3 linked regions of the Homo sapiens genome follow. The protein of the gene in region 1 interacts with the protein of each later gene in a pairwise test. Each region holds a gene or a part of one and is shown in the gene's direction. Other genes may lie near its edges. The genes, in order: DNM2, RAB38 and FYN.

The links.
Region 2: the proteins of DNM2 (region 1) and RAB38 interact in binary tests that used the Homo sapiens proteins (3 or more experiments, as listed by UniProt).
Region 3: the proteins of DNM2 (region 1) and FYN interact in binary tests that used the Homo sapiens proteins (3 or more experiments, as listed by UniProt).

What each region holds. Positions count from the first base shown.
Region 1 is NC_000019.10:10,716,139-10,719,887, forward strand, and holds the start of DNM2 (dynamin-2), read left to right. Parts: upstream 1-1,940; 5' UTR 1,941-2,104; coding exon 2,105-2,265; exon of another isoform or gene 2,266-2,365; intron 2,366-3,749. UniProt on the Homo sapiens protein: Catalyzes the hydrolysis of GTP and utilizes this energy to mediate vesicle scission at plasma membrane during endocytosis and filament remodeling at many actin structures during organization of the actin cytoskeleton.
Region 2 is NC_000011.10:88,173,513-88,177,261, reverse strand, and holds the start of RAB38 (ras-related protein Rab-38), read left to right. Parts: upstream 1-1,818; 5' UTR 1,819-1,877; coding exon 1,878-2,079; intron 2,080-3,749. UniProt on the Homo sapiens protein: The small GTPases Rab are key regulators of intracellular membrane trafficking, from the formation of transport vesicles to their fusion with membranes.
Region 3 is NC_000006.12:111,698,776-111,702,524, reverse strand, and holds part of FYN (tyrosine-protein kinase Fyn), read left to right. Parts: intron 1-2,256; coding exon 2,257-2,421; intron 2,422-2,854; coding exon of another isoform or gene 2,855-3,010; intron 3,011-3,749. UniProt on the Homo sapiens protein: Non-receptor tyrosine-protein kinase that plays a role in many biological processes including regulation of cell growth and survival, cell adhesion, integrin-mediated signaling, cytoskeletal remodeling, cell motility, immune response and axon guidance.

The sequences.
Region 1 (3,749 bases):
CCTGGCTAATTTTTTGTATTTTTAGTAGAAACGTGGTTTCACTATGTTAGCCAAGCTGGTTTCGAACCTCTAACCTCAGGTGATCTGCCCTCCTTGGCCTCCCAAAGTGCTGGGATTACAGGCATGAGCCACCGCACCTGGCGCTTTTTGCCTATTTCTTTGAGACCTGGGGTTTTGGGTCACAAAACAGGCAAATGCCATGAGCCACCCTCCTCCTCTTTCTCCATCTTCTTGTGCTGCCTCAGGTCAGAGCACTTACCTGCTCCTGCCTTCTCACTGGGTTTCCTTGTCTCTGGCCTATTTGTCTCCAGAGGGGTCAAAACACTTCAAATCCTCCTATTTGTCTCTGTCCACTGTCAGGAGTTCCAGTTCCCAGAACCCCAATTTTGCCTACAAAATAGCGTGTCTTTTCACGGGGAGAGGATTTGTTGAGTTTTAGTGGGTACTCAAAAAGATCTAAAGCCAGTTGGGGGGGTTCACACATGTAATCCCAGCACTTTTGGGAGGCCGGCCTGTGAGGGTCGTTTGGGCGCAGGAGTTTGAGACCAGCCTGGACAACACAGCAAGACCCTGTCTCTATAAAAAATAAAATAAAAATAATTAGCTGGGCATAGTTGCGCACGTCTGTGGTTCCAGCTACTCGGGACGCTGAGGCGGGAGGATCGTTTGAGCCCAGGTGCTTGTTGAATTGAGCTATGAGTGCACTACTGCACCCCAGCCTGGGCAACAGAGTAAGGACCCAGTTTCTAAGAAAAGAAGATTCATTAGCTAGACGCGGTGGCTCACACCTGTAATTCCAACACTTTGGGAGGCCAAGACGGGCGGATCACTTGAGGCCAGGCGTTCGAGACCAGCCTGGCCAATATGGTGAAACCCCGTCTACTAAAAATACAAAATTAGCTGGGCGTGGTGGCTCACACTTGTAATCCCAGCTATTCGGGAGGCTGAGGCAGGAGAATTGGTTGAACCGGGGAGGCGGAGGTTGCAGTGAGCCAAGATCGCGCTACTGCACTCCAGCCTGGGTGACAGAGTGAGTACCCCGCCTCAAAAAAAAGAAAAGAAAAAAGATTCATGATCTGCTAAAGTTGAAGAAGTGGGGGAAAACATTGGAGTGTTAGCGGCGTCAAGATCGGGCGTGAGCAGAAAGGGCACAGCATTTGCAAAGGCGTGGAGGAGTGATTTTATTGCGTTCTATCCCTAGGAAGCAATGACTTGGCCTCTACCATTTGCAGAGCGCATTGGGACCCTGCTCCCAGAGCTGGTTTGCAGTCTGGGAACTGAGATGCGCTCTGGGACTTGTAGTTTTCCCCAGTGCCAGGAAACTCAAAAATCGAGACATCGGATCCCACCACGAGGTGTCGCCCTTGAGCGAGTACGGTGGGATCTATCCTATACTTCAGAAGGCTGTTGCAGACATCCAACAATCACAAGGAAGAACGGGAGTTTTTCTGATTGACAGATATGGTTCTCAATGATAGTCAAGATTCGGATGTTAAAGCCCGCCCTCTTTTGCCTGGTTGGCTGGAGCAACGAAGTGATATTTATATGAACCAATGGGAAATTCTTAGGGAACGAGGTAGTAGCTCAATCCCCAACACCATTGGTCCACATTGTCTACTGGCACGTCTGCCTGCCAATAAGATGGTGGAACTTCGCCAATGGGCAGAGCCAACGTGCCTTTTTCGGAAACACCCCCTTCCTCTCTTGACAACTTGCTTTCTGCCGCTATTGGCTGTTGCACAACAGTGACGGTTCTTTTGTCCAATAAGTCAGCAAGACGGTCCCCAGGGGGAAGGTTTACTCAACCATAGGCCCGTGCCTAGTTTTTATTGGCTAGTGTATCCGAGTGGCGGTGCAGCAGGCCAGTCGCGTGCGGCGCGAGTGCTTTGGGCGCAGCCCCCGGGGCCGGGGCGGGAGGTCGCTCGGGTCGGGTGTCGCCTGAGAACCGGATGAGGCGGCGACCGTGAGGCCGAGCCGGGAGCGGGCGTCTTGCCGAGGCCCGGGCGGGCGGGGAGCAACGGCTACAGACGCCGCGGGGCCAGGTCGTTGAGGGTCGGCGGCGGGCGAGGAGCGCAGGGCGCTCGGGCCGGGGGCCGCCGGCGCCATGGGCAACCGCGGGATGGAAGAGCTGATCCCGCTGGTCAACAAACTGCAGGACGCCTTCAGCTCCATCGGCCAGAGCTGCCACCTGGACCTGCCGCAGATCGCTGTAGTGGGCGGCCAGAGCGCCGGCAAGAGCTCGGTGCTGGAGAACTTCGTGGGCCGGTGAGCGGGCGCGGCAGGGATCGCGGGCGGGTGGCGGCCTAGGGCGCGGAGGGCGGACCGGGAATGGCGCGCCGTGCGCCGCCGGCGTAACTGCGGCGCTTGCGTGCCCGCGGCGGGGAACCGGACGGGGTCGGGGAGGCGGGCCCTGTGGGACGCCCTGGGCAGAGGACTCCCTGCAGGGGCTCCGGAGCAGGCCCGGGCCCCAGGGGCGGTGTCACGGGCCAGGGCGCCGTAGGACAGGAGGTGCGCTGGAACCCTGCGGTCCATCTGGTCCCAGCTTTCGTGGGTGAAGTCTGCCATCTGGTTGGCCGTGGGTCTGGGGTAGATCCCTCTTCTGCTCTTTCGGGCTGTCCATCAGAGGTGAAACCGGCCATCTAGATATCTATTGGGGCGACCGCTGCGGTCTGGCTGGCTTGTTCTTGTATCTGGAGCTGCCCCCGCCGTCTGGTTGGCTGTCTCTCTGTCCTGGGCAAGCCTCCCTGCCACCACCATTTGGTTGTCCATCTGTCCAGTCCCACCTGGCAGCCCCCTGCTGTCTGGCTAGCTGTCCAGGGTGACCTCTGCTGTCTGGCCGCCCATCCGTGCCCCTCACAGACTTTAACACTGAGCAGTCCCTCTGTTGGGTGACACCAGCTGGCCTCTACTGTCTGACTGGCTAGCTGACTCCTAGGGGACCCTGTTTGATTCTCTCTGGCTGACTCTTACAGCTTGATTCCTGGCTAGCGCTGGCTCCTCTCTTCCGTGTGAATTCTTCTGTCTGTCTGGCCATCTCCTAGTCTGCCCATGACTACCCCTGAGTGTCTGGCACAACGGCTCTGGAAAGGGGTGGTAGGAGGGTAGAGGGGAGAACAGAGCTGAAGGAGGAGGTTTGGACCCTACTTCCCCTCTCAGCTGGAAGGAGGACTCTGGGGGTACCTTACTTCAGGATTCCTTTCCGAGTGCTAGAACACAGGGGCCCGCCTCCCAGCTACAGCCTACAAATTGGGGGCCCTCCTTTGGAGCCTGGGAAGGGGCTTCTTGCGTGATCAGGCCTCAGTGGCTAGCGCTGGGATGTAGCCTTCTCTGGACAGCCTTGAGAAGCCGCGGTGTGCCCATCTGTCCAGTGGGCAAACTCCACTCTCTGGGGCTGTTTCCAGGATTCAGGAAGCAAATGAATGAGAACAGCCCGTGCAGCCACCTCTCCCTCCCACCAACCCCTCTTGCCTTTCTTGTCTCCCAGATGGGCGGCCACTTCTCCATTCCAGGAACTACTCATTTGTGGTGGTGTGGCTGCCAAATGATAACATCCTCCTCCTGTCATTATTGTCATTGTTATTGTTGTTATCATTGTCAAGGGATAATGTCCCTTCTTGATTCAACATCTTGAATCCCAAGTAAGGAGTGGGGTGGAGGCTGTGTTATCATCCCCACCTTAGCTGAGCTGGGAGGCTCAGAAGGGACTGTGATCACCCAAGGCCACTAGGCTGGCGTAAGGCCTTGTGTCT
Region 2 (3,749 bases), on another chromosome or scaffold:
TCACCCACCTCAGCCTCCCAAAGTGCTTGGATTACAATCATGAGCAACCATGCCCTGCCATAGGTATTATCATTCTCCTTTCGTTGATGTGGAAACCAAGGCTCAGAGGTTATGTGACTTGTCCCGGGTACACATCTTCAGCATCCCTCTGCTTGTTTGGGGCATGTGGAGGCTAAAGTTTAGGGAGTGTCAGGCCAGAAGAGGAAGGCAGAAAGACAATGGCCTTGCCAAACCTCCTTTCTCCCTTTCACACAGGCCTGTGTTTAAGTCCTAGTTCTAACACATACTAGTTATGTGTGCCCTTGAGAAAGCTGCTGTTAATCTTGGTTTCCTTATTTATAAATTGAAGAAAATAACCCACTTCATAAAGCAATTGAGAAGATGAAATGATAGAATGTGAGCAGAGCTCCTTCACAGCACATTCAGGTACAAAATAGCTCATTTTGGTATAAACTGCTCACCCCCTAGCCCTGAATGCCCAATTTCTCATTTTCTTTATGTCTTTACTAAATTGTCTCCATCTTACTGAAACCTTCCCTGGCCACCCTATCTAAAAGGCAAACCCCATATAATCTCTTCACATCCCCTTTCTGCCTTATTTTATTACCAATTAATATATGACAAATTGTATTTATTTTGTCTTGTCCTGTCTCCACCCACAAGAAGGTAAATTTTTCTTAGGCCAGTAGGCATTGTCTGCGTTAGGAGGATGATACAGAAATCCTAACGCAGACAATGCCTACTGGCCTCAAAAAAATTTACCTTCTTGTAGGTGGAGACAGACAAGACAAAATAAGTACAATTTGTCATATATTAATTGGTAATAAAATGTATATTGGTCAAATGAATGAAAACAAACAACAAAAACAACAAAAAGAAGTTGGGAACCTAAAGACCTATGTTTGAATTTGGTTTTTTTCCTTACTATTTGACTCTGGGTCCATTACTTAAAATGTCTGGTCCTTAGCTTCCTCATTTGTAAAATAGGAAGAAAAATGGTATCTATTATTAAGACAGCTGGGATGACTAAATGACATAATTTATAAACCCTCTGGCATATAGCGAGTGCTCAATAAATGTTTGCCATTATTATTATTTGTAATAATCTGACCGATTGTTAAAACTGTCTTTCTGTGCAGCTCTGAGTTTTTAGGATATGGGAAGAGGCTAAAAGTCACCAGTGCCCTTGGCATTTTCGGCCCAGTTGTCCTCCTTGTTAACTGATTACCAGTTGAATGGGTGTGAAAGTGCTCAGTGTTCCCACCTCCAAGCTGCTCAGAGGTCAGCATTGCCATTCATTGAGAAATAACAGGCTGTGAGAGCTCAAATGACTTACTTATGGTCCCTCAACTTAAAAACCAGGGCACGCAGGAACCAAGCCCAGCCAGTCTTGGGCTTCCTAATACTGTAATTTCTCTCTACAGTGTGGGGTAGTTAAGAGCCTGTGACTTCAGACCTGTGGTCAACGGGGCCTTTCACCGGCCATCTCCCGCAGAGTACTTTTTCACAATCAGTTTTCTCGCAAGCAAAACGTGGAAAATAAGATCCACACCTCACAAGTTTGTGGCCAGGGTCACAGGTGAAAACAGCTCTTCGGAAACTCTAAAGCGCCGGATAAATAAGCGCTGCAACAGGCAACCACACGCGAACCCCTTTCAGCTGCCAGTCCCGGGACTCGCTCCTGTCTCCTCCCCTCTCCAAGACCGCGGAGTAGGAAGGAGGATTAACCCCTAGGGGAGGAGTTCCGCCCCCCAGCCCCCGCCCCGCCGCCCACGCCTCTCTCTGCACCTACACTTGCGCTCCCCAAGTCTCTCTCGTGCGCAGAGCCCAGGCTGCGCTTCCCTGGTCAGGCACGGCACGTCTGGCCGGCCGCCAGGATGCAGGCCCCGCACAAGGAGCACCTGTACAAGTTGCTGGTGATTGGCGACCTGGGCGTGGGGAAGACCAGTATCATCAAGCGCTACGTGCACCAGAACTTCTCTTCGCACTACCGGGCCACAATCGGCGTGGACTTCGCGCTCAAGGTGCTCCACTGGGACCCGGAGACTGTGGTGCGCCTGCAGCTCTGGGATATCGCAGGTGAGCGCGGGGGGAGGGGGTCAGGGGGATAGAGCGCCTCGCGGCCGGTTTCCAGTCTCGAGGCAGCGGCTTGCGGCCAAGCGTGAGATTAAAATCACTAGGTCGCGAGGCAGTTTTTCCTGGTGGGCTGGAAACTTAGTTTCAAAGAAAAGAAAAACGTCTGAAACTTCAAGTGCATTCCCTGGCGCTTTTGGGCTATTGCTTTAGCTCCTTCCCGCACAGTCCCCTGGGATCTCTCTGCCCAGAGCAGGCCTCCCCAGGGAACCAGAGGAAGATTGTCTGCAATTGCATTCTGTTCTCCACTCCAGCTCGTTTTCTGGGCGCGGGCAGTTCTGCCAATGACGCAGCCCAGTGTCACGCACGTCCTTCCGTGCAGGGGCGGACCGAGGGGAAGCCCCTAGGCTGGTTCACAGAGGAAACCGGGATAGTTCCAGGCTAGCTGGAGTTTGCCCATTCCTGTCTTCAGTGGCTCACTTTATTTCAAATTTTGTCACCTTTCTCTCTGCCCTTAAGACAAAGGAGTTTGAGGGTTTTTGTTTTGTTTTTTTTTTTTTTTTTTTTTGCTTTTTGCTTACAGTAAGCCAAGTACTTTTGTGTGTATATGTCAGGGGCAAAGTATTCTTTCTCCCTCTCTTTCTGTATTTCTATCTCTCTGGCTCTCTGTCTTCTATGAAAAGGAGGTTGTGTGTATATTTTAAGGCCATTTTTATGTAAGGGCCTATGATAGCCTTATGATTTCTTGATTTGGCCCTAAAGTTTTCATTGAGAGATCTGAAAAATGAGAGGTTGTTTGTTTTTGTTTTTTACAATATTTAAAATCAGATTTTGACTCCACAGGTTTGTACCAGAAGTTAGGCCTAGTCAAAAGTGAGGGTGCAATGTATCTACTCCAAGTGTGAATCCTTGGACAAGGCTGTTTGCAACCTGCGCATGACCAACCCCTCATTACAGATTTTAGCCCTGCCACTAACTAACCTGCTCAGTGGCTTTGGACAAGTCTCTTCAGCTCAGTTGCATCGCTGTTAAGTGGAAAGGAGTTGGGCAAGGGTCAAGGATCTTCCTGCTCAGAAGTTTTAAAGTCCTCTGGGATTCTCCATGGGAACAACTTCAAACAGTCTTATTTCATGGTCTGTGACACCAGGAACCTTTCGTTATAAGTGCTGGACCCAAACTAGCCACTTCTGTTTCAGAAAATGGATTCATTTTAGCTGATGCATTTGATTGGAAACTCTTTATCATGGCTTGAAACTAGAACAAATGTGGAAAATTTTTGAAAGGGCATTTGTGATCTGGGGACTTTCGTGCCTCTTTAATCATGAACTGCCAGGCCTTTTTCTTTTAGCATGTGAACAGATGAACAGATTCATGCATTTGGAGTCATCTTCAGCTGCTCTAGTAGCAAGGGGGTTATCAGAGAACAGAAAATGTTATCAGCCACTGTTGGATGGGGCTTTTCATCTAAAAAAATTCTCTCTGTGTACTTTCTTGCTGCATGTCATAATGTCTGAAAACCCTTCTGGCTGCTCGAAAGTCCTCAGGATTCAGATTTAGAAACGGCTTACTGTTTAAACGGGGATGTAGCTGTAATTTGGACTTCTGTGTACAATCCAGGTAACAGCATGACAGCAGAGAAGTTCTATGTCTGTAGATTTCAGTCTCCTCACATAAAC
Region 3 (3,749 bases), on another chromosome or scaffold:
CTACAAGGAATATTGTGTTTCCACTATCACTTTACCCTCAGCACTGTTGCAGGAATAGCTGCACGTACATTTCATTCTCATGCAAGCCATTTATCATGTTCCCCACCAATACTGCTGTTTCCTAACTAGGCTTAGACTTACACAACCCACAGCTCTTAGATCTATTATGTCTATTGTGTTAAATTAAACTTTTATAATGTACATCAGTTTCTGTCCTAACACCCAGATATCACCATTATTTTGTTCTTTCTGAAAACATATAATTATTAGATATGCAGTTTATACATTTTATCAAAGACTGGTTTTATGTGCAATTGTTAAAATGATTGCTTTCTTTCCTAGATTAGCAAGTATTATATGCCACTATATAATACATGTTCACATGTGCCTATAGATATAGGTGCACATGTATAGACACATGTCTATATCCTATTAAGCCTAGAGATATTTTTTTGTGTGACCCATTTCTCCATTTTCTATTGTTCTCCAGGACAAAGGCAAGACTCAAAAATAGTATATGATTTACCTCTACTATTGCTCTGTGCACAATCATTGAAATATGTATGTATAATTTTTGGCATGAAAAAGCAATCTTTCGAAAATGACAATAAGAAATGTCTGTTGATCCCTTGCACTAATGAACAATAGAAAATATTAACAGCACTTGCAGTACTAGTTGATTATGGCATTGGCTAACTCGGTTTATGTGGATTCTAATGAAACATTTGGGAGAAATGGAACAAAATATCTCCCTGAGCTTAAGTGATATACTCAAAATGCCTGCATGTTGTAAGGATTTTTCAAATGCTGAAATATATTTCATTACAGCCAAACATCAGCAGGATCCCCAGGGTTTGGATCATTTGAAAATACTGTGTTCGAAAGGGCACCTTAATAACATTGTAAAGCTGGAAGGAAAGAGGGGATATGAACAATAGACACTTTTTTTAATCTCGGGGAAAAAAAATCCATCTCACGTTAGACTTGTTTTTATATTGGCTTTCCCTCTTCCCTCTTTCTCTCTCACACAATAAAATGCCTTTGAAATGCTGACACATAAATAATTTCCTACCTAAACATCTCAGAGCCTGATTCCATCAAAAAGAAAGGAGTAAAAAGCAAGTTACAGCCCAGCAGCACATCTGCTTTCCCTGGGTCCGGGGGCTGCCAGGAGGGAGCGGGAGGTCTGTCCACCTCACAAGGCAGGCTCTGTCAGCTTTTGTCACTCCCTGATTTCTTATTCTTTGTTACCTTTTTTCGCCTGACTGATTTTTACTTGGCATTTAAGTTCCCCTTAGCACTGCCAGATTCTAAAAGGTTATATTCTTTTTAAAAAAGAAGAGAAAGAAAGAAGGAAAGAAGACAAAGAAAGAATAAAAACCTCCGAGTGTTAACTACTTTTTCCTTTCTTCTTTTTTTTATAAAGAATACATTCTTTCACATCTTGAATTTCTGTGAATTTTAGTTTCCATTCTTTCTCCTTTCAAACCAGACACCTAAATTATACGTCGAAGACTGTTAAAAAGTTGTTTTTTTTTTTTTAATGGAAAATATCCAAGAAGCAGCCCAGGAGTATCTGACATGGTGGAATGGAATCAGTTAGAAAGCGAAGAAATCACTAAAAAAAGTTACTTCTTTTTTTCCCCACCAGTTATAATCTTCAACCTTACTAGTTTATAACAGTTTAATGTCCTATAGAAGGATCCTCCACTAAAGTTATAATTTTAAGTATAGTCATATAGAGAGATCCCTAATCCCCTGGGTAATCTAGATACTAAAGGTGGGGAAGAACAGTCATATTGACATTCTTTAATCCAAAACCACTGTTTGAAATTAGTAAGGATATTTTCAGCATTCCCAAAAACATGTTATTAGCACGTTGAGCTGAAAACGTTTTTCTTCCTCAGTGAGTACAGAAACCAAAGCAGTCTGCGTGTATGTCTATGTATAGACTGTATCGTACCTGGGCTCATGGAGTAGTCTAAATTTAAAACGTCCTCTCTTCTACCTCCAATGAAAATGTTTCCGTGTGTGGCGTCTGATCTTCCACCGTGTGTGTGGTCGTCTGCTGGTGTAGCGCTGTTTAAGGAGCGCTGTGTGCTGCTAGTGTTCCACGATGTGTGTGGTCGTCTGCTGGTGTAGTAGCACTGTTTGAGGAGCACTGTGCGCCGCTAGTGTGGGTTTACACTTATGAGTGTTGTCATTACATGTGTTCTGCTCTTCTCTCCCTCTCCTGCCCCTGCCCTGCTCCATCAGAGAGAGCTGCAGGTCTCTGCTGCCGCCTAGTAGTTCCCTGTCACAAAGGGATGCCAAGGCTTACCGATCTGTCTGTCAAAACCAAAGATGTCTGGGAAATCCCTCGAGAATCCCTGCAGTTGATCAAGAGACTGGGAAATGGGCAGTTTGGGGAAGTATGGATGGGTATGCTGAGACTCAATTACTCTCTTATTAGCTTCCCCGTTTGGAAGATCCCAAACACCAAAGATGGAAGGTGAAAATAAAGACTGCGTGACCGGGAAGAAAGTTTGAATTACTAATAGTGGGGAATAATAATTTCAGTTTTGGTTTTAACATTCTGGAATTCCTAAAAAAAAAAAAAAAAAAAAAAAAAGATAGTAAGTGGGCAAAATTGGCAAATGGCTCAAGTTGTACTATTACATGACTCTCAATTCATAAACCAGCAAATGGTCCAAGGAATGTTCCAGCTGCCATAAAATATCTTGCTCTTCATTTCCAAAAGCAAATATTTGTTGAGTGTCATCCTAACGGGCAAGTCACCTTCCATCTTTCCTAGTGCATGCATAATTATGGATTATAAGGACTGTGTTTTCTTTATTAATTCCCTTTCCTGTAGAGAAAGCTGATGGTTTGTGTTTTAACTTAACTGTGATTGCATCGAGTTGTACCCCACAAACTTCTGGATTGGCTAAAGATGCTTGGGAAGTTGCACGTCGTTCGTTGTGTCTGGAGAAGAAGCTGGGTCAGGGGTGTTTCGCTGAAGTGTGGCTTGGTAAGGCAGAGGGCACATTTTGTTTTGGCTGCATCTCAAAGCCGATTAAAAGGATGGTTTTGAACAAAAATGCACACACAGCCGTTGGGACAAAGACACTTAACCTGGATAACTAGACGGGCACAGGCCATCCAGATTTTCAGAATATGCTGATACCTTGCTGTGCTCATCTGTCCTACTTCATGTGGTTAATTAAGGCACCCGCAGAACAGGAAACCAGTACACTATGAATCTGGTGTTTCCTCTTCCTAAGAAATGGGAAGGTAAGATACTGTATATGGGCAGCCATAAGAAAGACCATGGACGTTTTGCTCAATGGGCCTGGGTTTGAATCCTTACTAGCTAATTAACCACGAACAAGGGGCATATTTAACTCCTTTAAGCCTCAGTTTTTTCATCTGTAAAATTGGAATGATACCTTTTTGTTGTTGTTGAGACGGAGTCTTGCTCTATCACTAGGCTGGAGTGCAATGGCGCGATATTGGCTCACTGCAACCTCCACCTCCCAGGTTCGAGTGATTCTCCTGCCTCAGCCTCCCGAGTAGCTGGGATTACAGGTGCCTGCCACCACGCCCAGCTAATTTTTGTATTTTTAGTAGAGACGGAGTTTCACCATGTTGGCCAGAATGGTCTCGATCTCCTGACCTGGTGGTCTGCCAGCTTCATCCTCCCAAAGTGCTGGGATTACAGGCGTGAGCCACCACGCCCGGCTGGAATGATACTTATTTAAAGGATTATT